5 separate regions of the Homo sapiens genome follow, and regions 1, 2, 3 and 4 are each reported to be linked to region 5. The links are microRNA targets in miRTarBase. Many come from high-throughput screens and were not tested one by one. Region 5 holds a microRNA gene; each other region holds the end of a gene's coding sequence. Distances are from middle to middle.
What was found. The annotated mature microRNA hsa-miR-3136-3p reads UGGCCCAACCUAUUCAGUUAGU and lies in region 5 at 2,900-2,921, opposite strand. An mRNA with a match to its seed (bases 2 to 7 or 8) in the 3' UTR can be bound and repressed. Matches are read on the target gene's strand: a 7mer-m8 pairs with bases 2 to 8, a 7mer-A1 pairs with bases 2 to 7 and ends in A, and an 8mer does both.

Region 1 (6,368 bases), not on the chromosome of region 5:
ACAGTCAGCCAGGGCAGCTCTTCCCCTCCCTACAGTCAGCCAGGGCAGCTCTGTCCCTCCCTACAGTCAGCCAGGGCAGCTCTGTCCCTCCGCACAGTCAGCCAGGGCAGCTCTGCCCCTCCGCACAGTCAGCCAGGGCAGCTCTGCCCCTCCGCACAGTCAGCCAGAGCAGCTCTGCCCCTCCCTACAGTCAGCCAGGGCAGCTCTGTCCCTCCCCATATCCCATCTCGAAATATATCTGTATTCCAACAAGGAAAAATGGGATAGCATGTGGGTAGTCTAGGCAGTGAGTAAACATCAGATGTCCTCTTGTAGCAACTATCTATATGTTGTTATTATTTTCTATCTTAAATGTTCTCGAATGTTTATATTTCAGTAAACCTCTACCTCGTCACACACACACACGAATATATATATATGGCCAAAATTATGGAAATAAGACTATTTGCAGAGCTAAAAATTGAAACAGGTAATATATACACAATATTTAGAGTTGCAGAGGAGAAGGCTCTTGTACCCATTCATTCATTCCACTTAATATTTATTGTGTACAGGAAGTACACAACCGTTAAGCCCTGAACTGTGAGGTGTACAGTTGTGAACAATAGGAAGTCCCTGCCATGTGGAATTTAGGTTGTAGAATATGGATAAGCAATTACAATGTTTTTGACAGTAAGGAGTACTGTGAAGACAGTGAAGAGCCTAGAGAAGGATGACAAGTTGAGTAGAAGCAGCTGAGCAGTAGTTACTAGGAAGTTGGAGAACTGTGGGATTCAGTCCAGTTGGAATGATTGTTTCCTGTTACTACTAAATATTTTGCACTTAGTTAGCATAAGTGATGATAATGAATGAGCAGTCCTCTGATGCAGGCTTTTGTATTTTCCACCATCACAGGTGTGGTTCCTCAGAGTGCACCACCAGTGCCAACAGCCTCTTCCCGGTTCCATTTCCCACCTCTGGACACCCATTCTCCAACCAATGATGTGCAGCCGGGACGGTTCTCTGCTAGCTCCCTAACTGCTTCTGGCCAGGAGTCCAGTAATGGTACTGATAGAAAGACTGAGCTTTCAGAGCTGGAGGATGGCTCAGCTGCTGACTGGCGCCGGGGTGTGGATCCCGTGTCCTCCAGGAATGCCATTGGTGGAGGAGGGATTGGCCATCAGAAACGCAAGCCTGACATAATGCTTCCTCTGTTTGCTAGGCCAGGGATGTACCCTGACCCCCACAGTCCCTTCGCTGTCTCTCCAATCCCTGGCCGCGGAGGTGTCCTTAATGTCCCCATTTCACCAGCCCTCTCCCTGACTCCCACCATCTTCTCCTATAGCCCATCACCAGGCCTGAGCCCTTTCACCAGCAGCAGCTGCTTCTCCTTCAACCCTGAGGAAATGAAACACTACCTTCATTCTCAAGCTTGTTCTGTGTTCAACTACCATCTGAGTCCTCGGACTTTTCCCCGTTACCCAGGGCTCATGGTTCCACCACTGCAGTGCCAAATGCATCCTGAGGAGTCAACTCAGTTCTCCATCAAGCTGCAGCCCCCACCAGTTGGGCGGAAGAACCGGGAGAGGGTTGAGAGCAGCGAGGAGTCAGCACCAGTCACCACGCCCACCATGGCTTCTATTCCCCCAAGAATCAAGGTGGAACCTGCCTCTGAAAAGGATCCTGAGAGCCTCAGGCAGTCGGCACGAGAGAAGGAGGAGCACACTCAAGAAGAGGGCACTGTGCCAAGCAGGACCATTGAAGAGGAAAAAGGCACCATCTTTGCCCGTCCTGCTGCACCACCCATCTGGCCCTCTGTGCCCATTAGCACCCCAAGTGGAGAACCTCTGGAGGTGACTGAAGACAGTGAGGATAGGCCTGGCAAAGAGCCCAGTGCACCTGAGAAGAAAGAAGATGCACTGATGCCCCCCAAGCTTCGGTTGAAGCGGCGCTGGAATGATGACCCTGAAGCCCGAGAGCTGAGCAAGAGTGGCAAGTTTCTCTGGAATGGGTCAGGACCCCAGGGCTTGGCAACAGCAGCTGCTGATGCTTAGAACTGGAAGTGGATTAGGAGCTGTTTATACTATAATCAAATACATACATGTATTTATGTAGCAAGATTTCAGGGTGGGGGGGAGGGAGTTAAACTGGTTTGATCATTCTAGGGGCATAGACTTGTATTTTTATGTTTTGGGGATGGGATGGGGTTATCTTCTGTTGTAAATTAGGTGGGATATGAACACACTTATTTTCCTGGTGAGTAGGACACAGGGAGGGTATTGAACTCAAAGGAGAAGGAGCCTCTATTTCCTGTTGAGGCTTATACTTTCTGACAAGGAAACTCCCAAAGGGCCAAGATACTTTTTGGTCCCATGATAGTCAGGTTCCAGACTTCTTTCTTTTCTATTGTATTTGTATGTGGAAAGCCATTAATGAATTTATTTTACTCCAAGAGATACACATAAAAGGGAAAAGGGCATGGTTGGGAGGTTGAGCAGTAAGAGACCATTAATACTAAGTATTTTGCCTGAAATGCTTCTTTATAATTATTTCAGGGAAGGAATAAGATAATCTCAGACTTACTGGGGTGGGGCTTGGGGAATGTTTGGATGTTGCTCTTTTTCTTCTTCCTTCTTTTTTTTTTTTTTTTTTTTTTGGTTGGTGTTGTTTGGCATTTTTTTCTTTTCCTTTTTAAAGAAAATGTTTTCAGGAAACATGAACAAACATACTGCCAATTATAGTGGGGCTGGGAAGGCACAGGAGCTGGCGACCTCTCAGCTGCATAGTTGGGACGGCAAACCCTGCTGTGAGCTTCTCAGACTTTTCACCTACTTCACCTATTAAGAAGCCATGAGGAGTTGTAAACTCTTGTTCAGGGAAGAAAAGAGGGCAGGAGGAAGTAACCCAATGCCTTTAAATACAAAACAGATGAAAAACAAAATACTCATTTTTCCTTTTCTATTGTGGGTTTGGGGAGCCAAACCAAGTGTGACTGTGAGCACGTTCACTGAGAGGCATGACAACATTATTGAAGAGGTCTTTCCATTATGTCTGGTTCTCTTATTTTCTTAAGTCAAGCCTTAACTATGAACATACTTTAAGATGATACGGGTCTGTCACCATAAACCTGTAAAAGGGCATCGACAGCTTTTCAGATAATCCAGGAATGTTGAGACATGGCTAAGTTTCTAGCTGATACTTAGTCATTCCCTCTTGATATTGTTGGGATGGGTAGCCAAAAGGCAGGCTTGTGGGAGTTAAGAGCCAATGATACCTGGAAACATGGGAGGTAGCTGGGGGTACAAGTGGATGTTGAGACTGAAGGAAGAGGTGGAAAGAAGACACAGAAGGCACCCAGATGCCAAAAGGCCTGGCATGAATGAGAGTTGGCATCTGTCCTGTTGTGGTGTTCCCATTCTTGCCATACCCATTTGCCCAGATTGTTCTGATTCTCATGTTCAATTGACTATCCCACATGAGACTACAGTTTATAGGCAGTGAGGAATTGTTTCTTCCTGGGAAATGTCCTTCCAGCAACTTCAGAGGAATGGGAAAGTGTTAATCTTACGTGAAGCAAAGGAGCCTGGACTAGGGGCAGAGAGAAAGAAGCAGCAGCCCACCTTCTTTGTGTTTGCACATGTGCCTATGTCGTGTACATTGGTACCTGACTGTGGCTCAGATCTGCGTCGCAGCAGCGAGAGAAGAAATCACTCCATATCCGATGAGAGGAAGGGTGGCACAGAGATGGTGTCTACAATTAGAGACATTTCTGACTCCACCTTAGCCTAAGCAAACTTTATATACTGAGTAACATTTGAAGGTTGTCTTTTAATGGTGGGGGGTGTTTTTTCCTTTTTAAACTACAGTGCTTGCACAAGAGAGGGAGGGACTCAGAAAAGGTTAGGGCAGGTGAGGGAGACAGTAGATGGCCTGGGATGACTTGAGTCCATCATACTATTGCTTGGCAGGTGTCCTCCCCCATGTTTGATTCAAATTCCATGAGTGACCTACCTTTCCCCAGGAATGGGACTGAGAGGGTAGTCTCCAGCAACTCAGTCTGCACAGGGCTCCCCGTTCAGGCTGCCTTTGGTGGTTGTGCTTTTGTAAGTTTCTTTCTCTGCACTTCGACTTACCTCTGAATCAGAAAGCAAGCCCAGCAGGTGAATGAGGGATGTCTGCTTGGCATTGCCCAATCTAACCAGGGAGGCTGGCTGGCCACCCACTGTCCGCTAGAGGGGAGAGCTAGCAGGTGTTGGTATGAACTCAGGAATAGAAACACGAGGCCTTTTTAAATACGAGGGAGAAGAATCCATGATGCATACCTGTAACCCCCTAGAACCCAAGTGCCAGAATTCCTAGATGCTGCTTCTGTTTGAACAAAATGTCACTGCTTTTACACTTGAAAAAAACACACTCGAAAAATGTTCAACTCCATGAAAAATATTTTTTGGCTTTAAGAAATTGTTTGGTGTTTAACTGTTTCCTTTGATTGCCATTCCACCAGTAAATTGTTGGTTGATTTGCACTGCACTCTGGGGTTGGGGTTGGGAGGGGAGGGTCCTTATACAGAGCCGAACCTGGGGTTGCTCAGGAAGTGGGCCAGGGAATGTGGAAGTCGTTGACATTGCCTGGGCCAAAAGAGTGGGAGATAGTTTTTCTCCCCTCAGCCCACTCCTGGTAGCACCTGTCGCCAGCCTGGTACAAAGCCAGGCCTTTTTCTTCTGTGAGCATCTCATCACTGTCCAGCAGCAGGTGGAAAAAGGGGGACAACAACCAGACCTATTTTTTCTCCCCCATTTTTTCCAAATTTTGCTGTGCCAAATGTTTAAAATTTTATAAATATGAATCTATTGAAATTTCCTTAATCAAGAGCTTCTTCGTGTAAAGTTTGCTTTTTTAGCTATAGAAAAAGAAAACAGTAAATATCTCTTAATGGCATCCAGCCTTGCTGAGCTCACCTTTTTTCCTGAAGAATGGGTAGGAGTGAAATATTTAATGTAAACATTTCACCAAGTCCCTTTACCCTAATTTTGAAGCTGCATTAAACCCAACTCACTAACACAGGGAATGATTGCACCCTAGTCCTCTGTGGGCCAAGAAACTTTCAGAAGCATTAAAAAAATAGTTGAAGTATATCACTTCTCACCAAGTGGGTAGAGTCAGTTGGCTGTTTGTCCCTTGTTTTTTATTTATTCCATAATTATGTTTGTGCTTTTTGTTTTGTAAACAGTAATGGAACGTACATTTTTATTTTGTTTAGAAGACAACTTTGATTCAATCTTTCAAGAACTGTTCCATTCTTGGTTTCTTCTTAGGGGGATAAAAAGTTACCAGTTAATTTGTTTTGAGATATTTAAGCATTCTTTGAGTTATAGAATTGTGATGCAGGGATTTGTGAATGAGACATTTACATGTGAAAGGTGACTTCACTAGTTACCTGCTTGAGCAGAGTAAAGTGTGTATATGTACATAAAATGTAAGTAATCTTAACTCCATTGTGCAGTGCCTTTTAGATGTTCCGCTTTCTATAAAGTCTTCAAATTTTTGCATATATATTATATATATATGATGTAATGTTATAGAAATATATGTATAATATACATATTTTTTCCAGGGGTATCTGATAGCTCTGTATTTTGTTATGGAAGTTGAAAGAAAAAAGTATTTTACCTCAGAAATTAAATAAAAAAATACTTTTAAGTAATGTTTGCTGAGAGTTGGTTTTGTTGTTCATCATACACTGTGCTGGGGTGGTCATGCCAGAGAATTTGCCAAGTCCGTCCTCGCTCCCCCACCCTCATGCATTGTTATTCCTATTGTACAGGTACCAACATAGTAAGGAAATAGGTCTCTTAACAGTTCTGGAGATTTTCCATTTTCTTGAGTGAATGGCTGCTACCAGTTAAAACTAACTGAAGCCAGAGACGCAAGTTAGGTGGAAATTTCTATCTCAAGATTATTGTGAAGATTCTTTAAGAGTACATGTCAAAGCCAGACACAAAAGACCACACATTGCGTGATTCCTTTTACATGAAGTGTCCAGAATAGGCAAATCTGTAGCGACTGAACACAGATTAGTGGTTACCAGGGAAAAGTGGGGAGTAACCATTAGCAGGTCAGATTACCTTTTTAGGGTGATGAAAATGTTCAGGACTTAGTAGTGGTAGTTGGACAACTATTTGAATATAACAAAAACTACTGAATGACAACCACTCTGAAAGGGTGAATTTTATGGCATGTAAATTATATCTCAGTAAAGGTGGTTTCACTGGGTGTTTTGGTGTTTTAAGTACAAAACACTTTTTTAAGGGCAAACCAGTACTAAGGAAACAGTATTTCCCAGTAGATGACAAGAATCCAGAGGGGTAGGAGGGGATAATGGTGGAGTA
Region 2 (6,282 bases), not on the chromosome of region 5:
TGTCCAGGCTAAGCTGAACTCAGGAACTGAGGACGGTCCATGCTGCCTCACCACGACAGACACAGAGGATACCCTCAGGGCCCAGCCATTGAAAAATAAATGGGTCCATTCTTGTATGGCCTCAGGGGAAGCCTTTCTGCCACCAGAGCCCTGGACTAGGGCTGCCCACCAAGCCACCCCTTACAGGATCTGACTGCAGGCCAGATTAAAATGAGACCCTCACAACAGGGGGCATCCCCCCGCTCCCCCCCATCTGCCTTCCTTCTGCTATCACTCACTCACTCACTCACTTTCAATCAGTCTCTCTAGCTTCCTTTGGCACTGAAAGTACTAGGTCAGAGGTTGCGGTCCCTGAGACTGAACCAGCAGAATTTGGACTCGGGCCTAACTGCCCGAGAGAACTTGGTGACATTGGCTCTGCCATCTCCAAGTCTCTTTCCTAAGCTTATTTTCCCAACGTGGCCAGGGTGTGGCCCACAGTGCTTAACCTGTTTTTCCTTCCTGCCAGTGGTCTGAAGAGCCCAGAGGAGGAGTTTGGCCAGGTGGACTGTGGCAGATCAATAAAGAAAGGCTTCTTCAGGACAGCACTGCCAGAGATGCCTGGGTGTGCCACAGACCTTCCTACTTGGCCTGTAATCACCTGTGCAGCCTTTTGTGGGCCTTCAAAACTCTGTCAAGAACTCCGTCTGCTTGGGGTTATTCAGTGTGACCTAGAGAAGAAATCAGCGGACCACGATTTCAAGACTTGTTAAAAAAGAACTGCAAAGAGACGGACTCCTGTTCACCTAGGTGAGGTGTGTGCAGCAGTTGGTGTCTGAGTCCACATGTGTGCAGTTGTCTTCTGCCAGCCATGGATTCCAGGCTATATATTTCTTTTTAATGGGCCACCTCCCCACAACAGAATTCTGCCCAACACAGGAGATTTCTATAGTTATTGTTTTCTGTCATTTGCCTACTGGGGAAGAAAGTGAAGGAGGGGAAACTGTTTAATATCACATGAAGACCCTAGCTTTAAGAGAAGCTGTATCCTCTAACCACGAGACCCTCAACCAGCCCAACATCTTCCATGGACACATGACATTGAAGACCATCCCAAGCTATCGCCACCCTTGGAGATGATGTCTTATTTATTAGATGGATAATGGTTTTATTTTTAATCTCTTAAGTCAATGTAAAAAGTATAAAACCCCTTCAGACTTCTACATTAATGATGTATGTGTTGCTGACTGAAAAGCTATACTGATTAGAAATGTCTGGCCTCTTCAAGACAGCTAAGGCTTGGGAAAAGTCTTCCAGGGTGCGGAGATGGAACCAGAGGCTGGGTTACTGGTAGGAATAAAGGTAGGGGTTCAGAAATGGTGCCATTGAAGCCACAAAGCCGGTAAATGCCTCAATACGTTCTGGGAGAAAACTTAGCAAATCCATCAGCAGGGATCTGTCCCCTCTGTTGGGGAGAGAGGAAGAGTGTGTGTGTCTACACAGGATAAACCCAATACATATTGTACTGCTCAGTGATTAAATGGGTTCACTTCCTCGTGAGCCCTCGGTAAGTATGTTTAGAAATAGAACATTAGCCACGAGCCATAGGCATTTCAGGCCAAATCCATGAAAGGGGGACCAGTCATTTATTTTCCATTTTGTTGCTTGGTTGGTTTGTTGCTTTATTTTTAAAAGGAGAAGTTTAACTTTGCTATTTATTTTCGAGCACTAGGAAAACTATTCCAGTAATTTTTTTTTCCTCATTTCCATTCAGGATGCCGGCTTTATTAACAAAAACTCTAACAAGTCACCTCCACTATGTGGGTCTTCCTTTCCCCTCAAGAGAAGGAGCAATTGTTCCCCTGAGCATCTGGGTCCATCTGACCCATGGGGCCTGCCTGTGAGAAACAGTGGGTCCCTTCAAATACATAGTGGATAGCTCATCCCTAGGAATTTTCATTAAAATTTGGAAACAGAGTAATGAAGAAATAATATATAAACTCCTTATGTGAGGAAATGCTACTAATATCTGAAAAGTGAAAGATTTCTATGTATTAACTCTTAAGTGCACCTAGCTTATTACATCGTGAAAGGTACATTTAAAATATGTTAAATTGGCTTGAAATTTTCAGAGAATTTTGTCTTCCCCTAATTCTTCTTCCTTGGTCTGGAAGAACAATTTCTATGAATTTTCTCTTTATTTTTTTTTATAATTCAGACAATTCTATGACCCGTGTCTTCATTTTTGGCACTCTTATTTAACAATGCCACACCTGAAGCACTTGGATCTGTTCAGAGCTGACCCCCTAGCAACGTAGTTGACACAGCTCCAGGTTTTTAAATTACTAAAATAAGTTCAAGTTTACATCCCTTGGGCCAGATATGTGGGTTGAGGCTTGACTGTAGCATCCTGCTTAGAGACCAATCAACGGACACTGGTTTTTAGACCTCTATCAATCAGTAGTTAGCATCCAAGAGACTTTGCAGAGGCGTAGGAATGAGGCTGGACAGATGGCGGAAGCAGAGGTTCCCTGCGAAGACTTGAGATTTAGTGTCTGTGAATGTTCTAGTTCCTAGGTCCAGCAAGTCACACCTGCCAGTGCCCTCATCCTTATGCCTGTAACACACATGCAGTGAGAGGCCTCACATATACGCCTCCCTAGAAGTGCCTTCCAAGTCAGTCCTTTGGAAACCAGCAGGTCTGAAAAAGAGGCTGCATCAATGCAAGCCTGGTTGGACCATTGTCCATGCCTCAGGATAGAACAGCCTGGCTTATTTGGGGATTTTTCTTCTAGAAATCAAATGACTGATAAGCATTGGATCCCTCTGCCATTTAATGGCAATGGTAGTCTTTGGTTAGCTGCAAAAATACTCCATTTCAAGTTAAAAATGCATCTTCTAATCCATCTCTGCAAGCTCCCTGTGTTTCCTTGCCCTTTAGAAAATGAATTGTTCACTACAATTAGAGAATCATTTAACATCCTGACCTGGTAAGCTGCCACACACCTGGCAGTGGGGAGCATCGCTGTTTCCAATGGCTCAGGAGACAATGAAAAGCCCCCATTTAAAAAAATAACAAACATTTTTTAAAAGGCCTCCAATACTCTTATGGAGCCTGGATTTTTCCCACTGCTCTACAGGCTGTGACTTTTTTTAAGCATCCTGACAGGAAATGTTTTCTTCTACATGGAAAGATAGACAGCAGCCAACCCTGATCTGGAAGACAGGGCCCCGGCTGGACACACGTGGAACCAAGCCAGGGATGGGCTGGCCATTGTGTCCCCGCAGGAGAGATGGGCAGAATGGCCCTAGAGTTCTTTTCCCTGAGAAAGGAGAAAAAGATGGGATTGCCACTCACCCACCCACACTGGTAAGGGAGGAGAATTTGTGCTTCTGGAGCTTCTCAAGGGATTGTGTTTTGCAGGTACAGAAAACTGCCTGTTATCTTCAAGCCAGGTTTTCGAGGGCACATGGGTCACCAGTTGCTTTTTCAGTCAATTTGGCCGGGATGGACTAATGAGGCTCTAACACTGCTCAGGAGACCCCTGCCCTCTAGTTGGTTCTGGGCTTTGATCTCTTCCAACCTGCCCAGTCACAGAAGGAGGAATGACTCAAATGCCCAAAACCAAGAACACATTGCAGAAGTAAGACAAACATGTATATTTTTAAATGTTCTAACATAAGACCTGTTCTCTCTAGCCATTGATTTACCAGGCTTTCTGAAAGATCTAGTGGTTCACACAGAGAGAGAGAGAGTACTGAAAAAGCAACTCCTCTTCTTAGTCTTAATAATTTACTAAAATGGTCAACTTTTCATTATCTTTATTATAATAAACCTGATGCTTTTTTTTAGAACTCCTTACTCTGATGTCTGTATATGTTGCACTGAAAAGGTTAATATTTAATGTTTTAATTTATTTTGTGTGGTAAGTTAATTTTGATTTCTGTAATGTGTTAATGTGATTAGCAGTTATTTTCCTTAATATCTGAATTATACTTAAAGAGTAGTGAGCAATATAAGACGCAATTGTGTTTTTCAGTAATGTGCATTGTTATTGAGTTGTACTGTACCTTATTTGGAAGGATGAAGGAATGAATCTTTTTTTCCTAAATCAAGACTGGAGTGTTTCTTTAATGAGATTAGGATATTGCTCAAGGAAATGAAGACTTTTCTCTGCAAATATGAATGATGAGGAAAAATTAGATGATCTTTTGCAAAATGTGGAAATCCTATAATTAACCATAGTTGATCCCTGTCTCCTTGAAGAATTCAAGTTCTCTGAAGCTCTTCCCAGTGTATAAGTACTTAGTAGACTATGTGTCCAATAATGCTAATTGATGTGGTAGAAAATATATACAACCTCTGCCACTGCAGGAATTGAAATCTGGTCGAGAAGACAGACTGATACGCTAAGAATAATTCAGGACTATTTCTAGACAATACAAATAAGAGATGAAATTATAAGGTAGAGCATATATGTTAACAGCTGTGGTTCTCAAAGCATGGTTCCAGACCTGCAGCATTGGTATAACCTGTGAACTTGTTAGGAATGCAAATCTTTGGGCTCCAGCCCAGACCTACTATACTGTGGGGGTGCTCCATACTCTCTCTGCCCTCTGGGTGATTCTAATACATGCTCAAAATTTTTATATATTTTTTAATTTTGTAGAGAGGCGGGGTCTCCCTGTGTTTTCCAGGCTGGTTTCAAACTCCTGGGCTCAAGCAATCCTCCACCTTGGCCTCAGAGTTCTGGGATTATAGGCGTGGACCACTGCGCTTGGCTGATGCTCAAATTTAAGAACTACTGTGCTATAGGATTCAGTGAAGGGACAACTTACTTAGTGTTGAGCTACAGTTTTATGGAAAAGCTTTGAAAAGGCTTTGCAGAAGAAGTGAAACAGAGTTTACCTCTTGGAGTTCAAATGTAATAGCCATCAGAAAGTGTAGCCTTGAATGAAGGGCTGCATTTATCTGGATCTTCTCTGCTCAGCCTAGTTGAAGGAAAAAAATAGATCTGTCCATCTCCCACCATACCCCTGGGCTCACCCACCCCTGTTCCCTACCACCCAGTCTCTAATTATAAGGAATTGTTCTAAAACTGTCAACCGGATCTTACAAGCCCATAGTAAGGCCTCTGCACTTTTTTTTTTTTTTTTTTTTTTTTTTTGAGATGGCGTCTCACTCTGTCACCCAGGCTGGAGTGCAGTGGTGTGATCTCGGCTCACTGCAACCTCTGCCTCCCGGGTTCAAGCAATTCTCCTGCCTCAGCCTCCAGAGTAGCTGGAACTACAGGTGTGCGCCACCACGCCCAGCTAATTTTTATATTTTTAGTAGAGATGGGGTTTCGCCATGTTGCCCAGGATGGTCTCAATCTCTAGACCTTGTGATCCACCCGCCTCGGCCTCCCAAAGTGCTAGGATTACAGGCATGAGCCACTGCACCCAGCCAGGCCTCTGCACTTCTAACCTGTGGGTGGGTTTCACATATGCAACATAGGAAGCACTCACAGAGAAGTGGAGGGTGAAATCGTTGCTGCACAGTATAAAATCCTGGGCCCCAAAGAAGGTTCTACTCTTTGTAGGGAGGGACGAGCATGTGGAGCTTGCTGTCCAGACCCCAGAGGGCTTAGGATCAGCCAAACTTGCAGAAAGATGGAAACTCAAGGAATTCTTCATCCCAAGCTCCCTGGCCTGGCATCTGGCCCTCAGTAAAGTCTTTCCCTACCTCTTAAGAGAGAGTGGGGAGACTTGCTACCCAAACCTGGTCTTCCTCCTCATGACCCTATTCAGTCTTTAGAGACATCTCCAGGCCTTCTTCCTAACCAGTGGGATTTTTCACTAGTCCCCATTTTTTCTCCTCCTTCCCAATTTCTAAACCATCTACCTGCCAAGGCTGCCTGCCTGCCAGAACCAAGGTCCAGTGATTGCCCCTTGTCCTGGTCAGGTGCACTGAACTGTCTGGGGTGGGGAGGACCCATTCCAGGAAAAAGCACCGATCAACTTTGAATCAAGCCAGACCTTTCCTCATCCAGTTGACTTGCAGTTGACAACTTGAAAGCCATGTTCTGGATGCTTTGGGTCTAGCCTTTTTGGATCCTGTTGGCCCAAACTTCAGACCCCTATCTTTCCTAGTTGCCCTGACTTATGCCTGGCTGTTTGGGGACATTTGAGTATAATCCTTGCCTTGCTTCCTCTCTAACTCAGAGCTTCACTATGAGCACTTTTTTCCCCCTGGCTCCTGAAACCTCTCTTCCGCAACTGCTTTCTGCAGGACTTGCTACTTCCAGCAGGCTCTGAGATTTC
Region 3 (6,368 bases), 60 Mb from region 5:
GGGCGTGCAGGTGGGGGCTCAGAAGTGAACATCGTGGGGCTTTGAGCAAGACTCTCTGGGATCCAGTCTCAGCTTCCATACTTTGAAGTCAAGGAGTGGACCTGTGCTGTCTGTTTGCTCTGGGGTCTGGGCAGTCCTGTTGTTTGGGTAGAGGCCTCAGAGGGCCCTAGGGACAGACTGACCCAGGTCTGAGCCTCTTGGGAGCGTGCGGATGGCCGGGCTCAGACAGGCCTGGTTATGGGTTTGACTTACAAGGGGCACACGCGCACTCTGGTGCTTCCTGGCATTCAGAAGAGAAGAGGGAGTTCAGACATCAGGCCTTCCTTCTCCCTGGGAAGGATGGCAGGTGCCTGGAGCCAGGCCTGTCTTGAGAGCCAGGGCTCTGGGTCTTCCTCCTCCAGTGCCCTGTTCCAGGCCTTCAGTGCATAAAGCACTCCCCTCCTGGGGTCTCTTCAGGGCTCCCCGGGATGCAAATGGGACAGGGAATAGGATCCCAGGTTTGAGGAAACCAAGGCCCAGAGAGGAGAAGTGACCTGCCCAGAACCACAGGACAGTCAGGGCACACCTAGGTTTCAACGGCAGGCTGCTATGAGCCCCATCATGTCAGTTTGTCTCAGGCTTGGCAAGGTGGTGCAGCACTGCTAGGCCCCCCTCTTCTTCCTCAGGGTGACCAACCAGCAGCCCTGCTGTTTAAGAGTCCCTTTCGGCAGAAAACCCCTTATTTGAGTGACCAGGAATAGACCCCTGATTATATTGGTGGGCAGGCTATGGATTTCATGGGCTTCCCAGTGCCAGAGACCTGATTCAGGCACTTCTCTAAGCTGAGCATCTACTGTGTGCCTGGTAACATCTCTGTGCTGGTCACATCACAGAAGCAAGAGCCCCTCATGGTGTTCTTAAGTCCTAACTCGGAATAACAACAGGTCAGAGCCCCCCAAAGCCCAGGCACAGGCCCTGAGCCCCTGGACACTGGCGTTTGTGTCTGAGAGGGGGTGAGAACACTTCTCTGTAGGAAATGTCTTCAGCCCAGGATCCAGGGGTGGGGGGAACCTCGACCATGGGGTGGGTTGTTCCTGCCACTGTGGGATCAATGTGGCTACAAGACCCGGGCAAGGGATTCCTCATCCAGGCCTGTGTGCTCAGGAGAGTGACGCTTCCCTCATGGGGAGGTCGGGGTGAGGGTGCCCCTGCCAATCACCAAAGAGCCCTCTCCAACACAAACCCAATGGGAGGAACCTGGGGTGTCCCAGAGAAGGGACCCAGCCCAAGCTTCCTCTGCCCCTCAGGCACCAACTGCTTCTTGCTCAGGGGGGTCCCCCAAGGGTTTAGGGACAGAGGGAAGGTCTCACAGTGCTCTGGGTGGCAGACTGGCAGGGGGCAGCTTGTCTACCACCCCGGGCCTGGAGACTAGTTGAGGCACGTGGCCACCTGGGCCGCCTCTGGGCTCAAAGATCAGAGAACCAGTCCTGGGCGCAGTGGCTTGTTATAGAAATCTGTTTAATGGTTTAGGAATGTGTACACTCTGGCTCTGCCAAGTTTCCATAAAGGCAACTTTTCCATGTTTTAAAAAATAGATTTGGTATAAAGATTTATATATTCATAAATAGGTGGCATGAAAAATTACCAAATGCAAATGGAATACTTGCGCTGACTGAAGCCCTGTTCACCCCAAGTCCAGGCCCTGCAGGGGTCCGAGGGTCTCTGCTGGAGGAGGCCCCAACTCCGGCAGCCTCTTAGGGAAGAGAAACTGAATTAAATGTGTATTAGGAACCCCTCCAGCTCCTTAAGCCAGCGTCGCACTGGCCCCACCGAGGCCTCAGCCCACCTCCCTCTGCTTCCCCCCGCCACCTCCACCATTGCCCCCTCCCCTGCACTCTGGCCCCTGACCCCACCTGTTCCCACTCTTTGGCAATTTATCAACAAAGGAAGAGATGACACTGTTCTCCTTCCGCCCCAGAGCCCGGGCTGCCGGGAGAGCTTAGCCTGCCAAGGGGAGGAAACAAGCCGGCTTTGTTTTGTCTCACACACTTCCCCGTCTTCTCTCCCAGCCCAGTTTTAAGGGCCGGAAGGGCAGTGGGGCCCCCTCCTGGTGGGATACAGCAGGGCAGGAGCCCCTGCAACCCCAGGTACAGGTCTTGAGTCCCTGGACACCGGCTTTTGTGCCTGAGAGGGGGTGGGAACGCTTCTCTGTAGGAAATGGCTTCAGTCCAGGATCCAGGGGTAGGGGAACCTCGACCATGGGGTGGGTTGCTCCTGCCAGGGGGTACTAGGGGCAAGGCCCCAGGGTGGAGCCAGTTCTGGGAGCTGTGTCCAGCTAGGCATCTGTGACCCCAAATGGCATGAATAAAAGGGCAGGTTGCTAAGAGCCAGGGGAGGGCATGGGGCAGGGAGACCAGGTTGGCCCAGACAGGACAGAGGTGCTCCAGGGACAGGGTGCTGGAGTGAAGCCAGGTGGAGCGGTGGAGCTGTGGAGCCTTTGAAACATCCTGAGGGCCCAGGCCTGCCACAGGGTGACCTGGGCAGAGGAGAAGCCCAGAGGACAGCAAGGTGCCCAAATGAGGTCAGGGCTTCTGGGGTGGAGGGACGGGGGGCACAGTGGCGGCGGGGGAAGGAACGTTGAGTCCCAGGTGAGCCTGCCTTTCCAGGCCAAGCCCTTGGAGTGAGGGTGCTCCTGCCTGGGGGGCGAGAAGTGGAAGTGGCTCACAGTCCAAGGTGACAAATGAACCCATCACCGGTCAGCTACCATCCCTGTGAAGGAGCCAGGGTGGAAGGCCCTGTCCATGTCCTCCCTCCCTCCCTAAGCCCTGAGGAAGGTAACAGCCCCACCTGTGAGGCCCCAGCCTGGAAGCAGAGTAGGAGAGCCGGGCTTCTTAGAGGTGGGCAGTGGGTGGTGGTGGGCAGTACTGGTAAGTATGCTTGGGTGGCTGGGACTTGCCCTGGAACTGGGGCTGAAATTCAAACGGGGAGGCCCAGGCCTTTGTTCCCAAGACCCTGTGAATGCTCCCTGTTCCCCCAAAAACAGAGGGGCTCTGCAAGGACAGGCTTCATGGGATTTCTCTTTCAGAGTGGGCCTGCAGTGAAAGACCAGCTCAGCCCCTTCTGACCATGTGACCCCAGAAACTTCAGCCCCAGCAGAAAGGTTGTGAGGCTGGAGGAAGGCACTGCCCACGGCACATCCAGTCCCAGCGGGGTCTGGGGGCACCCCTCAGTGCCAGGCACTGTCTGCCCTGCAAGGGGAGCCCAGGCACTGCAGTGGAGGCGCAGGGGCAGAGCCCAGACCCCACTCAGCTCCACTCTCACCCCTGCCACAAGCAAAGCTGCTGAGAAAGGGAGCCAGGCAGCCTCGCCTCTGGCGCCCCCCAATCTGATGCACCCAGACTCCCCTCAATGCAGGTGCTAGCCCCTCAGCTCCTGGCAGCCTTCCTCCCCTGCAGAACCAGGCTCAGCCATTCCACAGGTAGCCTCCCTGCCCAAAAGGAAGCCTGGCAGGTGAGATGCTGGCTCCACCACCAGCATCAAGCCCTGCTTGTCTCAGTCTCAGCAGAGGAAACCCTGTCCAGGCCCCAACCCTGCCTCTTGGGTCACCGTGGCACTGCTGTAAGGCCTGCTCTTGCCCTATGGCCAGGCCTGCCTGGAAAGTGCTTAGTGCAGAGGGCAGGGAGGCATGGGGGAGGCCTCTCACTGGCCCAGGGACTGCACTGAGCCATGCCTGGCCTGCCCCTGGGAGCTAGACCACAAACCGACGCAGCCCTGCTCGTGGGTCCAAGAGCTGCTTACTTCTGGGGGCACCCATGCTGAGGGGGCTGCGAGGCAGAGCTGGGCTGACACAGACGGACTGGGATTGGCTAAGGAAGATCACCTGGCCCCTCCAGCCCTAGCCCTGGCTCTTTTGTCACTGTGATACCTCTGAGCCACATGCCCAGAGGACAATGCTGCTTCCCACATCCCCCTACCCCACTTTTGCCTTCTAACCTTGGTGCCCAGCTCAGGGTGAGGCAGTTAAGGGTCCAGGGAATAAAATGGGCCAGGCCAAGGACCGCCAGGGCCTCTCCTTTTTTGTCTGGGAGACTCGATTCCATAGACTGGGACCCACGCTCGGCTGGCAGGATTCCTGCTTGTGGGGTAAGGCTGGGTGCCTTGCGGTGCCCTCTCATCCCTGAGCCTCAAGGATGCAAGCTTCTACTTGGACCTTAAATGTCCACTTTCTCATCTCATTCCCCCACCTGCCAGACTTCTGAGTGCTGGCACTGAAGGATTAGCTAATTTTGCAACCTGAGTGGCAAAACACTGGGCCCTGAGCCAGCAGACAGTCCCCACCTAGCTGTGGGCCGTGACCCCACCTAGCTGTGGGCCGTGACCCCATGCTGTGCTGATGAAAATGAGAAGCTACACAGAAAGTCAGAAAACTCAGAGGTCCTGATAAGGCAGTGAGCCAGACCCCAGGGAGATGTCTGTGAGTGCTGCGGGGGCAGTGAAGGCAGGAAGCAGGTTCCCCGCCTGGAAGGGGCTGGGGCTTCCCTGGAGCTGCGCTCAGGCACCAAGTCTGTGGGTCTCATGGCTCTAGCTCTGCTGCTCTGTGCAGAGCCCCAGGATGACCGGGAAGAACCCAGGGCACTGGACACATCCCTGGAAAGCAGCAACCTGCTGCCACAGGTAAAGCAAACCCATGAGAGGAAACGGTCAGAGCCAGCAGGCATGGGACAGGGAGGACTGCTGGCCCCTCCTACTGTGGCCCACACCGGCGGGTTCAGGCCAGTCTTGGAATGTGAAGATGGTGGAGGGCCAGCTGCTGGCTGGCAGGGTGGCCCGCCAGGGTATCCTGCTTCCCCTTCCTCAAGGAGAGCCTCCATCCCGCAGCCAGGCCACAGGATGCAGAGCTCCAGAGCTTCACCCGGCTGCTGTAGTTGCCGGTACCCAGGAGGGCTGGCTCTGGAGGGCTGGGCTTGGCAGGCTGGGGAGAGCAAGGAGGTGGGGAACCCCCAGTCTGCCGGCCCGGCCCCTGGTCAGCACCCGCAGCCCCAGCCTTCTCCGATGTCCTTGCTGTTCAGCTGGATGTGGTCGGGGCTCTTCTCGCTGAACAAGGGGCCCCCGTGCCGCATGATGAGCTCCGTGGCCACCCTCAGGAAGGCCTCCTCCACGTTGCTCGAGTCCTTGGCAGACGTCTCAATGGCACACAGGATGTCATAGTGCTCAGCCAGGCTCTGTGCCTCAGCCAAGGAGACCTCCCGAAGCTCGCTGAGGTCTGACTTGTTCCCTGCGGAGGAAAGCCGGGGCAGCATGAGGCCATGGGGGCTGGGCAAGCCCAGTCCCACCTGGGAGGGTCACGCTGACAGCCCCATGCCACTCCCTTCCACCACTATAAATGGACACCCCTGGCATGGTCATCTGTCTTTCTTTAAAAAACCTTTTTTAGGCCGGGTGCAGTGGCTCACGCCTGTAATCCCAACACTTTGGGAAGCTAAGGCAGGAAGACTGCTTGAGCCCAGGAATTCAAGACCAGCCTGGGCAACACAGTGAGACCCCGTCTCAATTTACCCAGATCCTCCTAGATGGTATGAGATGACTTCATTACATTCCAAACAATCTGTTAAATTGCTCCTTGACCCAATTTCTAGAATAATTTTTTAAAAGTCTCTACATGGTTGACTTTTGTAATGTGGTTATAAGGAAGACAAAAAAAAAAAGAGTCTGGGCCAAGCGCAGTGGCTCATGCTTGTAATCCCAGCATTTGGGAAGGCCGAGGTGGGTGGATCACCTGAGGTTGGAAGTTCAAGACCAGCCTGGCCAACATGATGAAACCCCGTCTCTACTTAAAAAAAATACAAAAAATTAGCTAGGCGTGGTGGCGGGGGCCTGTAATCCCAGCTACTCGGGTGCCTGAGGCAGGAGTGGCAAGCGGAGGTTGCAGTGAGCCGAGATTGTGCCACTGTACTCCAGCCTGGGCAACAAGAGCGAAACTCCGTCATAAAAAAAAAAAAAAAAAAAAAGTCTGTAAAGATCTAAAATTTCCTTGGTAACCTTAATTGATGTAGCAACCAGTTTCAAAGTGTGAAACTTATTTGGATCCTGATCTCAACAAACTGGAAAAAATAAAACACATATGAATTTTATGGGCAATTATAAATCTGAATACAGACTGGCTATTTTATATTATTAAGGAAATGTCAGTATTTTTAGATGAGAAAATAATATTGCTGTTTTTAAGTGTTTAAATATTTTGTAGGTTCATGCTGGAATACTGCCAGGTGAAATGGTTTGATGTGAATTTGTCTCAATAATCCGAGGGAGGGGAGGTGACATGGTACAGATGAGAGGAGGTTGGACTTCAGTTGCTAATTGCTGAAGCAGGGTAATGGGTACCTGGGGGC
Region 4 (6,368 bases), not on the chromosome of region 5:
CATTGATGGTAGAGTGTCTAAAATTTTAATGTCTGCCCCCATCAATTGTTGGCAAGGCTGTGGAGGAATTGGACTCATACACTGCCAGTGGGAATATAAAACTCTACATACAGTTTGAAAAACAACTTGGCCGTTTCTTAAAAAGTTAAACAAATACTTACCATGACCCAGCTATTTCACTATTAGGTATTTACTCAAGAGGAAAGAAAACTTGTCTATACAAGTATCTGTACATGAATGTTCATGGAAGCTTTATTTGTAATAGCCCAAACATGAAAACAAATCAAATATCCATTAATGTGTTTGGATAAATAAAAATTGTGGACTATCCATACAATGGAAGGAAGGAAAGAAGAAGGGGAAGCGGGAAGAGAGGGAGGGAAAGATGGAGGGAGAAAGAGAAGAGGGAAAGATGGAGGGAGAGAGAGAAGAGGCAAAGATAATGAGAAAGCAAGTAAAAAGGAAAGAAAGGGAAAGACACAAAGAAAGAAAATTTTAAGAAATCCTAAAGGTTTCTTATGAATGCCTGTGGTTTGGGGAACACTATCCTTATTTAAGGTGTGTACTGAAAACTGTACTACTTACTATACAAAAATGCTGTAGAAAGAGGAATTGGAATAATCCTCTCTCAATTCCTTACAGCTGAATATCAGAATGCATCTGGTAACTGATAAAAAAAGCCACACACATATTGCCTATACAGGTAGTGTCTATAGAATAATGGTGCCTATACAACGATCCTCAAATTGAAAGGCAGATATTTTTTCATATGTGTCACAACAGATTAATTAATTCAACAACTATTCAGTGACTCCTACCATATTTTAGGCATTATTTTAGATTCTGTTTTTTGTAATGACCAAGATAGCATGTTCCCTGCCCTCAAGAAGCTCACATTCTGTTTGGGAAGGCAGTCACACAACCTGAGAAGCTCAATAAAAGTCTGTATCTGATGAATTTGATGGCATTTGCAATATAGTGTATTGATGTGAAAATGGAACACAGGAGAGGAGAAGAAAGTGAAATTGACTGGAAATGAGTGGTCATAGAAAAAACAGAACACCGGGAGAGTGGGCTCTTTGTGTGTGTGTGAACATGCTCCTTGAACTTGACAATTCCACTGACTTCTTAGCTCATGTCCTCGATTTTGCCAGTATAAGACCAAATGATATAGAATCCTTTTACCTATAAAATAAAATAATGTAATTAGCTGGCTTCTATTAATCTAACAAGGCATTTATTCAACAAATATTTCTTGACGGCCTATTTAGCATCAATAACACTGTGTTTGGGAAGCCTTCAGTGCCATGTCCAGTGCAGGTCCACTGTGAGGCCAAATCTGAGACTGAGGGAGTAACAGAAGTTGCCAGTTACACTATGAAGTAAGATATTGGGAAAACACTGGCTCTTGATGGTTCTGAAAAAAGGGTAAAAGGCCACGCCCTCTCTGAGTGAAGAAAATTTAAGTAGGGAAATATCTTGGGTTTACACACTTCTTACATATTATTTCCAACACATATTTTGTATATTAGTTGTTATTCTTTATTAAGCATGTAGCTTATACTATTACCATTAAGCCAAGAAATACTTCTTTCTGCCTACCAAGGCCTAGGGCCCCTAGGTTCTGGGGACAGACGGAAAATCCAGGCTCTGTCCAAGTCCTCAAAGTTCTCATAGTCTAGTGGGAAGATGGTTATACAGAAATATAATTTCCAAAATTGTGTAATGAGGGCTTTGGCAAGGGTAAGAACAAGAGGCTCTGGGAACACGGAGGAAGGACCCTAAACCACAGCCAGAAGGGTGGGTAGACAGGATTATCCTAGGCTCCTCTCGGAAGTTGTGAGTATAAAGTAGATACTATTATCCCCAATTTGCAGGTGTGGAAACTGAGGATCGGAGAGACTATGAACCTTACTTAAGGTCACACAGCAAGGCAGAGGTGGGGCAAATTTCAAGCCTAGGCTTGTCCAACCCCAGTGTCTCATGCAGTTTGCATTACCCTAAGCTCACTCTTATGGCAATGTCATCTGTTTTTATTACCAGCCACCAGCTACACTTCCTGGCACTCTGCTTGCTAGAAATTTTTTTTTTAAGTACTAAAAACAGTTTTAGGATCAGCCATATAATTTGTGAAGTACAGTGAAAAATGAAAATGAGGGACAACTGGTTCAAAAATCATTAAGCATTTAAGATGGCAACAACACATCATTAAAGCAAGCAGGGGCCTGTGCAACTGCACAGGTCACGTGCCCATAAAACCAGCACTGTTCAGTATAGTAGCTGATTGTGGCAACTTCCAGGGAAAGGCAGCTGAAGGATTTTCGGGTGTTTTCATGTTCCCCACAGAGGAACCCTGGGGTGAAAGCTGTGCTCAGCTGTGAGGAGTGCAGGGCTCTGAAATGGGCCTTTCACCCCCACCTCTTTCCCAGTTCACAGCTGTTTCTGGGGATTGGACACCACTTAGACATGGAGACACAAAGGGAAGCTACACACAGGGCACACAAATTCCCAGGAAAGGCCTGTAATGTTGCTGTTACTTTCTAAACCTGCTTCTGCTTCTAGGTAGATAAGTCTTTCCTACACAATCAATTATAATCTCCAGCTATGAATATTTTCACGAGTGAAATGAGTTAATGTGGTTGGGCTAGAATTGTTCACCTTCCATATGAAGTTTAGGTTGATAGAGTAACTTTACACAATACAAAACCAACACCATTTCTCATAATAAATTGCAGATGAACATGCCCAAACCATTACCTTCACACTTGGCAAAACAGTAGTACTCTGTGCAGGGGCATATCATGCAATTTACTTCACAAAAGAAGTTAATAACCTCGCAAGGGGGCCATGACAGAGTCCACAGTTCAATGTGTCTTTCCTTCATATTTTATGTAACCTCTGTTCCTCAACGTCTTCATCTATAAAATGGGCTCAATATGAACATCTACTTCCTAAGGTTGTTCTGTGAATTAAACGAGTTAGTGTATGTATAAACGTTAAAACAGTACTTAACACATACAAGCATACTATGATTTTTACCTGTTATATCTGCATGCCAGGTATTATATAAAGGCAACTTGCAGTCAATAATGTTAATCCTTGATGTATTCCATTCATTCATTAAAATGAATATTTTAAACAAGTTAAGATACAAATAACGCTGGGAGAAAAACTACTGTTCTCAGAAGCATTCATGTAACGACTGCGAGTATAAATTTGTTAAATTCCTAGAGTTTGTACCTCTGAGGCTCAATCCTTTGTTTTTTTTTACATTTTTGCGCAGTGGCCTCTGGTATTGGTAAAAATGTTGCTCAATAGCTTGTGGAAATGCCTTCATATTTTAAAGTACTAAGTACAATAAAGAATGTCCCTCTCCATTTTTGAAACAGCCAGTTTGATTTTGAAAGTATTGTTGTTTAGGAAAGACCAGTAACCTGTTAAGGGGCTGTCAGAAATATCTGGACACATGATCATAATCCTAATCAGAGTAAGAACCATCTGTACTGGGCACTCACGATGTGCAAGACACTGTTGGAAGCACTTAATATGCACCATCCATTTTAATCCTTACAATAATCTTGGAGACGTACACTCTTACTGTGCCCAATTGACAAATGCAGAAGCTTTGGATCCCAGGTTAACTAACTTGCACTGGGTCACACAGTGATTCAATAGGAACACCAGAATTCAAACCCAGGAATTCTGACTCTGGAGCCAAGCTCTATTAGCTATGAGATTTTGAAAATCACAAAATTGCTCTGAGCCTCAATTTCCACATCTGTGAAATGGGAATAAATGTAGGCCCTCCAATACTGGGAGGTTGTGACTTGCTGCATTGGAACTGTCTACTTTTTGTCTTAGTCTTTGGATATCTAGAATTACTCAAGAAAAAGAAATATAACAAAGTGAGAGCTTTTAAAATATGTGTTCTTTCCTTAGGAAGGACCCTGAGAATACGGCCTTGCAAGCCCTAGAAACAGCCTTGAAGAATGAGGGTACCTGAAACACTTTCTATAAAAGTGGCAGGATGTTGGGACCTGGTGGGCACACAGGTCCCACTTATCCCCCATGGACTCTTAGCTTTGTGGTGTGAATAAAGCATGAGCAGGGCCTGAACAGGACCCTCCAAATTGTGACCAGGGCCCTTTTTGGTCAGGACTATGCTTGTACTGTTCACATACCAGAATAGCAAAGGAGAGGAGAAATATGAGAAAGGAGGGAAAGGGAGTTTCTTTTGCTGGTTTGCTTTATATTTTTTCACTCTGTTCTTTTAATGTAGTCTCTCCTATTATGTTTCTACAACTTAAATTTTCAAAAAACAGCGGAGTTTAATTTAAAAAAATAGTTATATGGTCAATGTGGAACTTGTAGATTATAGAAGACCATATCACCAGTTATTAAAAAAAAGATATACACCTTGTTCACAGCATGGTGTATGCCCATGTAGTTCTCTCCAAATGTCTACACACACACACACACCCTCACATATCTGCTCAAACTCAGTTACAATTATTTTTGTTACAGTAACATTATCGATTAACACGTATTTCCACTGAATGTCTGACCATTTTCCCATCAATTATTAGCCCCAAATCACCCTCCCACATTCTCCCCACCCCCAAAGACCTCAGGAGCCCGTTCCCCACACATAAACATTTTTTTATCCTTTAGAATCTAAGATATTCCCCTCTCAAGCTTCTGACTCCTGCTGTTCCCCATTTCCTGACTCTGGATCTTCCTCCCAGCTTCCCTACTCCCATCTGGGTTATCGTCTCCCTACCTCTCATCCCAAACTTCATCATTCCCTGCTCCTTTCCTGACCCTGGATGTCTCCATCACCCCTCCTTTTCTCCAGCCACCTGGGTTAGACCCTGGCCCCTTTTCTTGCCCAAGTTGCAAATCACCTCTGCTAAGAGGGTATATAGACCTAAGTGGGAACTTCCTGCACAGAACTCCATTTCAGCCAGTGGGAATAAATTATTGCTAGGACAGTATTTTATTTCTTCTCTCGTCCAAAGAGTCAGCTAGTATGTTAACAACTTTCTTTAACCCTCCAAATATGATATAGGATTAACGATTTTTCGAACCGCAATAAAAAAACACACCTCTACATTTTGTTTAAACAAAACAATTTATTTTACTAATTAAAACATTTCATAACAGAAAAGCAACTTGGAAAACAGAAATCTCAGCTCAAGGGCAAAGGCAAACTCTTGAGGAAGAAGGTGGCCCAGAATCAAAGGCCAACAGCAGGTTAAGTGCTAGGTGGTGGAGTCATGGGGAGGAGAGGCTTCTAAACTACTCAGGATGTTGGTTAACGGCTGGAACTTTGGGAGACCTCGCAGCTAACTACAGGGCAGGCAGCCCATTCACAAAGTGGGTAAATGTTGATTCCTTCTGTGGGTCTTAGAGGATGCTTATAGAGGGTCACGGCTCAGGCGGTGTTGCGGGGTGAGCTGTGCTCTCTATTTCTGCCTGCTCTTCTGGAGGGACAGGGCTCAGAGCATAAAACTCAGGCATCAAAGCATACCTAAGGCTTTCAGGGCTAGGAGTGGAGATAGATCTCAGGCCCAAAAACTCAGGGGAAGGGGATGAGGGGCTTAGGCCAGGAGACCTACTCGGGGAGGAGGAGTTGGAAGCATAGGAGGAGGAGGAGCTCTCATCCCACTGCTGAGGGATGGGAAGGAAGAACCTCCCAGGGGGTGAGGGTGAGGAGGCACGCATACGGACTGCATGCCAAACAGGCGGGGAAGCACGGCTTGGGACCTCAGGATCAGGAGAGCCTGATCTGCTCTGAAAGGCAAGCCTTTCTGAGCCAGTCCCACAGGAAGGATTCTCATCAGCTGACCCAGACAGAGAGCGGCGGCTGAGAAGGGCTGATCTTTGCTGGGTGGAACGGCTCCGGAGGCCAGTGCCTGGCGTCGTGCTGGTGCTGCGATGACCGGCGTCTGACCTTGCTGTGCGGACGCGAAGGGCAGGGCCTGGCGCAGAATCGCGGCCTCGGCGGGCAGAGCCTGGCGCAGAATCGCGGCCTCGGGGGGCAGAGACTGGCGCAGAATCGCGGCCTCGGCGGGCAGGGCCTGGCGCAGAATCGCAGCCTCGGCGGGCAGGGCCTGGCACAGATGCACGGCCTCGGCGGGCAGGGCCTGGCGCAGATTCAGGGCTTAGACGAGCAGGGTCTAGATGAGTGGCGCGGTGTGGAAAAGCAGGGCCTGGCTGGGCGGTGCAGCCTCGGATGACAGGGCCTGGACCAGATGCACGTCTGCGGAGAGCAGAAGCTACCAGGGTGATGCGGCTTCGGGTAGCAGGCCTTGCCTCAGATGCGTGGCTTAGGAGTGCAGGGCCTGGCTGGGTTGCCTGACTCGACG
Region 5 (6,368 bases):
CCACTGCACGCTAGCCTGGACAATAGAGAGAGACCCTGTCTCATTCATACATACATCCATCCACACTAAAAGTAATTTTAGAAAACCCATAAGAATTTTTAAATCTCCATAATGTATCAGTATAAAGCTAAACAAAAAGTAATGCTTGGAATGTCTAATTCCTTAGGTCCTACTCAAATGGTGATAAACTTGAGTATAAAAGGAGTAGGAAGGGTTCCTTTTTGGACTCAAAAAAATAGTCTTACCTGAGTTTGGTTTAGATGAACTTAGAAATCACTTACCTTCTTAAATACACTGAAATTCAAAAATATCTGATAGTAATTAGTGCTGGTTTCTAAGAATTCAAACTCCTATTATATATCTTACAGTATATAGCTATTACTAATTGAAATATTATTGCACAGCATTTTGTTTGTGAATATTTAACCTGATTAACAGAATCTGGCACTTTTTTAAAAAATTAAGTAATTCAATACATGGCACTTACAGGACATTTCTTCAAGACATCCTACATCTCAGAAGTCTATTAAAGATACCAGATCCAACTAAATTTGTATATCTAAAAGTCACAGTAAAAACCAAAACTAGGACTTAATGTCAAAGAATTTATATCACTTTCCTTTCACATGTATTAGGTAGAAGCAATCTGTCCCTCCTAAGCAATGCTTTTGTTCCTTAGACATTTCTCTTTCTCGTTCATGTGAAATATAGCTATCAATAGGAGATCTCAAAAATAACATAAGCAGAAAACAAACTGAAGCAATATAAGGATATATACTCCTTATATATGAATGAAAATACTAATAACAGAAAAGCACCAATAATTAAAATCTTAAATTATCATTTAATATTTGCTACAAATAATGTAAACATGTAAAAACAAATTCTGATACAAGAAAAACCATAACATTTAGTTTTTTTGGCACATCTATCTGCAAAGGAGGTGAAGATACATGTTAATGTAAGAAAATATTCCTTTCAAATTGACATACTAATAAGCATAACAGAATTTTGAAGTGATAAGGACTCAAAAATAAAGATGTAAGATGAAAACTTTCATGCTTAACTGTATTGAAGTATCAACTTATTCTACCATAATTGCCTTGGAGAAATTCCAAATTATATTAATAATTGTTCAACTTCAAGGTACTTAATGCTACACAGAAATGGCAAAATGCGTATGTTTTTAAATCTGTATAAATTATTATGCATCAATGAAAGTATTTTTTAAAACAAATGATTTAATCTCCAAAAAGCACATCTAAAAATCCCTTCCACTTACTAGAGTTACCTTGCAAACATCTTCCTTCTCAGAAAGTGCTTCTGGCTGACTTTCAGCAGGTTCACACTGCTCAGCCACCTTGTCTAACACAGTCTGTCCTTCATTTATTGGTGTGGAAGAAACCAAGATATCAGGCTGTTCACAGTTAACAGGAGTTGCACTTCGTCCACTTTCTTCCATTTCTGCTTCCTCAGTGGGTATAACTAATGTTTCATTTACTTCTTCAGATTTTCCTTCAGCAGATTCAACTGTTTTAGACTTTGGAGTTGAAGAATTAACTATAATAGGCACTAAAGCATATCCCTTGCCTGACAATTCATCATCTGAATTGATTTCACTTACACTCCGGCTATCTAATGACTGTACACTAAATGAGTCTATTCTTTCAAAAGCATCAGATGAACAGCAACTCTCAGTGAGTTTTTGGAAATCATCTAAACGATTATATTCAGGACAAGCAGATGCAGAGAGAAGCTGAAAAGATGTCTGCATCAAGTGAAGACTTGATTTTGAATCTGTAGTCTCTTGTCTCGAGCTCGCTGAGCTCTCACTTATTACACTTTCATGATCTAAAACTTCAATATCACTGGTGGTAGAAGTACCTGATGAAAAGGTACTAACAGGAGGAGAAGGTGTATTGCTCTGCCTGTCTTCATGTTTTTGTTCCTTAGGTTCCAAAGCTATGTCCTTTGTTTCTGCTGTGAGAGACTGCGTAGACGTATTAGATATACTTTCCATAGTTGTTTTCACATCAATTACACTTTCAGATACTTTCAAACTTACAGTTGGCACCTTCATATCCGATTCTTTATTAACAGTTTCTTCGTGCTTGCCTTCAGTTTTAGGTGATGAAGTACCTGCTGCCAGAGTTTCCCCTGAAACACACAAAGAAGAGTCTTTTACTTGTGATTCAGTTGTTTCAGGAGTTCTTGACTGGCCAATGTGCAAGGATTCATGTAAGCTGCTTTTCACTTCTTCTTCTGGTCGTTGTGATTTTGCTGGAGGTTTTGATACCACTGGACTCTTCTGAATGGTCTGGACATCAGTTGGCGAGAGAAAGGCACTGAAGAAATTTTCAGATTCATCGACCACAGTCCTCCGAACTGGCTTTGTGATTGCTTTAGGAGAGGCTATTGGTGGACTCTGAGGTTCAGTGTTTGATTTCAACCCCCAGGTTGAAGTATCCCATCCTCCACTGACAGGGGAACTTATTCCTTTAACAAAAAAGTAAATATTAAAAAAGAACACATATATGTTACATTAATATTTCAATCATCATTATAAATCAGTATAAATATAAATTTAGAAAAAATACCCTATGAAATACCTGTAATTTGCACCTGCTAAACTCCTTGCTTACTACATCATTAAGTAGTTTCCAAGTTAATACAGGGACTTACGGAAGAAAACTGGTGTGGGTCCACCTGAGAGGAAGGAGGAGCACAGACAAAAGACTGGGCCTGGCCTGGACTACCAGATGCGAGTATGTTATTCCTCCCCACAACAAATTAAGGAAGTAACAGTATATGTTTTATAACCCACAGTAAGTCCAAGATACCTATGATTCATCTCATAATAACACGCTTTACTTATCAATATGAAATAAACTAATATGGAACTAACTGAATAGGTTGGGCCATGTGCAGTCACAGAAAAATGACCCTACCTATTCAGTCAGTTTCATATTAATTTTTACTTGTAATATCAGTAATATAGTTATGAGCTAGACAAAGGGCAACACTCAAAAACTGAACTCAGTGGGTATGGAGGTTCACACCTATAATCCCAACACTAGAAGAGTCATTTGAGTCCAGGAGTTCAAGACAAGCCTGGGCAACATAGTGAGACCCCTGTCCCTACAAAAAAATTTTTTTAATTAGCTGGGCCTGGTGGCCCACATATGTGGTCCCAGCTACTCAGGAGGCTGAGGTGGGAAGATCATCTGAGCCCAGGAGGTGGAAGCTGCAGTGAGCCATGATCAAACCACTGCACTTCAGCCTGGGTGACAGATCGAGAACCTGTCTCGAAAACAAACAAAACAACAAAAGCCTCAAACCAAGATAATGGTGACAAATGTTCTTTCCCGAAGATCATATTAAACTGATGGGAATGGTAAGTTCTAGAGAACAAATTCATTTTCATCCACTTAATCACAGGCTGATTCTCTAAATCCCACTCTCCAAGCCCACTCTAAGAGGAAGTTTTGTTCTCAAATTCTAAATTATGTCAGAAATTACAAGGTCATTATAAATTTCAGAAATGTGTGTTTTTTTAAGAACTATTGCTCTTTGACATAGAGGTGGTTGACACTAGGGTTTTTAAAAAAGCGCTACAAAGAAAATGACTGTTTTCTTGGGGAAAAAGTTAATTATCATATCAGTCATACAAATAGCTACTACTAAAATCCTGATTTTTAAAAATGGCATAATCAGGATCTTAAAAATGGTATATTCGTTAAAGTATTTAAAGCATTTCTTTAAAAATGTTTTCTTTTTCAAATTAAAATGTGGCTGAACAAAATATTCACAAAATATTCACAATTAGAAGTTGGTGGAGAGAGCACAAGTAACTAAAAGCTTCTAAAAACTATCAAGCCTTATAGTAGAATCTATCCTTTAATATGACTTCAGGCCAGGCGCAGTGGCTCACGCTTGTAATCTCAGCACTTTGGGAGGCCGAGGCGGGCGGACCACCTGAGGTCAGGAGTTCAAGACCAGCCTGGCCAACATGGTAAAACCCTGTCTCTACTAAAATTACAAAAATTAGGCAGGTGTGGTGACGCAAACCTGCAATCCCAGCTACTCGGGAGGTTGAGGCACGAGAATCACTTGAGCTCAGGAGACAGAATCTGCAGTGAACAGAGATGGCACCACTGCACTCCAGCCTGGATGACAGAGTGAGACTGTGTCTCAAAAAAAAAAAAAACAAAAAAACAAATATATATATATGTAAATATATGTATGACTTCAAAGGCAGTTAGGATGAAAAGTATGTAGAAAACTTCAGTTTGGAGGCATAGTTCTACACATTCATTTGCACAATATCCAAACCAGAGAAAATCAAAATTAAATATGCAAATGAACAACCAAGATTATGTCTGATTAATTTAAATACATTCAAAAGATGACAGGAATTAATTTTGCCTCTTGGAGAATACTTTATATAATCCCAGGGTTATTTGGTATCCATCTAAATTATACCATTCTGAAGACTATGGGCATTTTCCGAAAACAAATATCCTTATATGTAAAACCTATATTCTATCTTATCTAAAGTTTAGTAATTCTAATTAACTGGGGCACATATGAAAAAACAGAGTTACTCCAGCAAGGTTATATGACATCTTGTAAAAAGTAAAGAGGATCATCACATACACACATGGACCAAAATATCTTAAACTGAGGTACCTCAAATTTAGGTCCTGACTTTTCAATGATGTAAAATTAAGAACAGAAACCAGAAAGGAGTAGTCAAGTACATCTCTTATCCTTTTTCACACAAAGGTTCACATCCCCCAACACCAGCAAATCTTTACCCCACACATCAAATGCTGAACTGTTCCTTAGACTTAAGAGTCAAAAGCAACTGAATGAAGATCCCTGAAAGATTAAGCTCAATGAAACTGCAAAGAGAGACTTGGCTATTCAGAAATAAAATGTGATACCATCCAGAAATCTTGGGTCACACATTTTCCGGCTAATACCTCCGGCACATTCTAATCCTCCTCCGCCGTGTGACCTAGAGCAAGTTACTTGGCCATTCTGGGCCTCATTTTCCTCTTATGTAAAACACGGATATAAACCAAGCTCTCTCTGGGAGTTGTTCTGAAGATGAGAAGGCCATAAAAAAGCACATTACAGGCTCGTGCCTGTAATCCCAGCACTTTAGGAGGCCGAGGTGGGTGGATCGCCTTAAGTCAGGAGTTCCACCAGCCTGGCCAACATAGTGAAACCCCGTCCCTACTAAAAATACAAAAAGTTGCCGGGCGTGGTGGTGGGCGCCTGTAATCCCAGCTACTAGGGAGGCTGGGGAAGGAGAATCGCTAGAACCTGGGAGGCGGAGGTTGCAGTGAGCCGAGATCGCGCCACTGCACTCCAGCCTGGGCGACGGAGTGAGACTCCGTCTCAACAACAACATAAAACCACATTACGCGCTACCAAGCGCGAAATGTTCACTGACTGTTAGCGATTGTTCTTCCCTTCCCTGATGATTTACGTACTTCAGACCTTGGATCCCAACAGTGCCCGAGACGCGAAGCAATTCGAGGTTCAGGTTCGGGAAGGTTGTGCTTGGAAGCTGCGTCGAGGGAGAGCTTGAGGGCAAGACCAACCAACCAAGTCCCCTGTCATCCAAGTCCACAAGCCTCGCACCCAGGACCAAAGAAAGACAAGGGGGAACCTGGATCTGGGTTTTCCCTCAGGAAAACAGCAAAGACCGACTTGGAGGCTGAAGCAGCATTAGGGAACGGGCCGGGGAGAAATTACTTCCTGAAAACTCTCTCAGCAAGGAAGGACCCCTCTCTACACCACTTAACCTGCCTGCATCAAGAGAACAGCAGCCTCCGGGAGCCAGGAACCCCGCTCCTCTCTCTCTTACCCGGCTCTCCATACGGAATGGTCTCGGCCCAGATGCTCGGCTCCTCTTCCTGGATGTCCAGAACCCTGTCAATAGACTTCTGGGCCTGGGACAGGGCCTGCTTAGCGAAGCTGGAGAGCTGGGAGGCGTTGAACCAACTCATCGCCCCTCCTCAGCCGGCAGTGGCGGCGGCAGCACCAAGCGGGAAGGCCTCAGGCCTGGGGAAGGGTGCAGAGGAACGGCTTCGCTCCCCTTTTCCACTCGGCTGGTTCTGTCAGCGTGTGGCCATTACCCCGACAGCCTCCCGCGAGCCCGGGATGTTACCCTCGGCCGTTCCCGCACAGCTGAGACGAAGGGGGCCCATGTGCGCATGCGCTTGCTTCTTCCACGTACACAGCAACCAAATCTACGAGCCCAGAGTTCGGTCGACAGACGGAAGAACAGAAGAACGTTGACGTCACATCCGGGAGCGCAGGGTTGCCGTTAGTTACCGAGGAACGCGGAAGGGTTT

Region 1: miRTarBase lists ETV3 as a target of hsa-miR-3136-3p. Seed matches in the 3' UTR shown: 7mer-A1 at 4,575-4,581, 7mer-A1 at 4,609-4,615 and 7mer-A1 at 5,069-5,075.
Region 2: miRTarBase lists TGFA as a target of hsa-miR-3136-3p. Seed matches in the 3' UTR shown: 7mer-A1 at 881-887 and 8mer at 2,351-2,358.
Region 3: miRTarBase lists RAB43 as a target of hsa-miR-3136-3p. Seed matches in the 3' UTR shown: 7mer-A1 at 4,730-4,736, 7mer-A1 at 3,683-3,689 and 7mer-A1 at 2,399-2,405.
Region 4: miRTarBase lists EZHIP as a target of hsa-miR-3136-3p. Seed matches in the 3' UTR shown: 7mer-A1 at 5,227-5,233.

Annotation. Positions count from the first base shown.
Region 1 is chr1:157,120,506-157,126,873 of GRCh38, reverse strand. It overlaps ETV3 (ETS variant transcription factor 3), which reads left to right. Exons shown (of 5, transcript NM_001145312.3): 5 at 895-5,683. The coding sequence ends at 2,033. Among named protein-coding and RNA genes, the nearest start is that of ETV3, 15 kb to the left of the region's middle.
Region 2 is chr2:70,445,093-70,451,374 of GRCh38, reverse strand. It overlaps TGFA (transforming growth factor alpha), which reads left to right. Exons shown (of 6, transcript NM_003236.4): 6 at 509-4,091. The coding sequence ends at 516. Among named protein-coding and RNA genes, the nearest start is that of TGFA-IT1, 33 kb to the left of the region's middle.
Region 3 is chr3:129,086,093-129,092,460 of GRCh38, forward strand. It overlaps RAB43 (RAB43, member RAS oncogene family), which reads right to left. Exons shown (of 3, transcript NM_198490.3): 3 at 1,480-5,254. The coding sequence ends at 5,004. It overlaps ISY1-RAB43 (ISY1-RAB43 readthrough), which reads right to left. Exons shown (of 13, transcript NM_001204890.2): 13 at 1,480-5,254. Among named protein-coding and RNA genes, the nearest start is that of GP9, 28 kb to the left of the region's middle. RefSeq lists an enhancer at 2,358-2,902.
Region 4 is chrX:51,407,588-51,413,955 of GRCh38, reverse strand. EZHIP (EZH inhibitory protein) reads right to left here. Exons shown (of 1, transcript NM_203407.3): 1 at 5,113-6,368. The coding sequence ends at 5,428. Among named protein-coding and RNA genes, the nearest start is that of EZHIP, 3.8 kb to the right of the region's middle.
Region 5 is chr3:69,046,067-69,052,434 of GRCh38, forward strand. MIR3136 (microRNA 3136) reads right to left here and starts at 2,969; the gene lies at 2,892-2,969. It overlaps TMF1 (TATA element modulatory factor 1), which reads right to left and starts at 6,267. Exons shown (of 17, transcript NM_007114.3): 1 at 5,879-6,267; 2 at 1,292-2,496. The coding sequence starts at 6,020. RefSeq lists an enhancer at 5,859-6,328.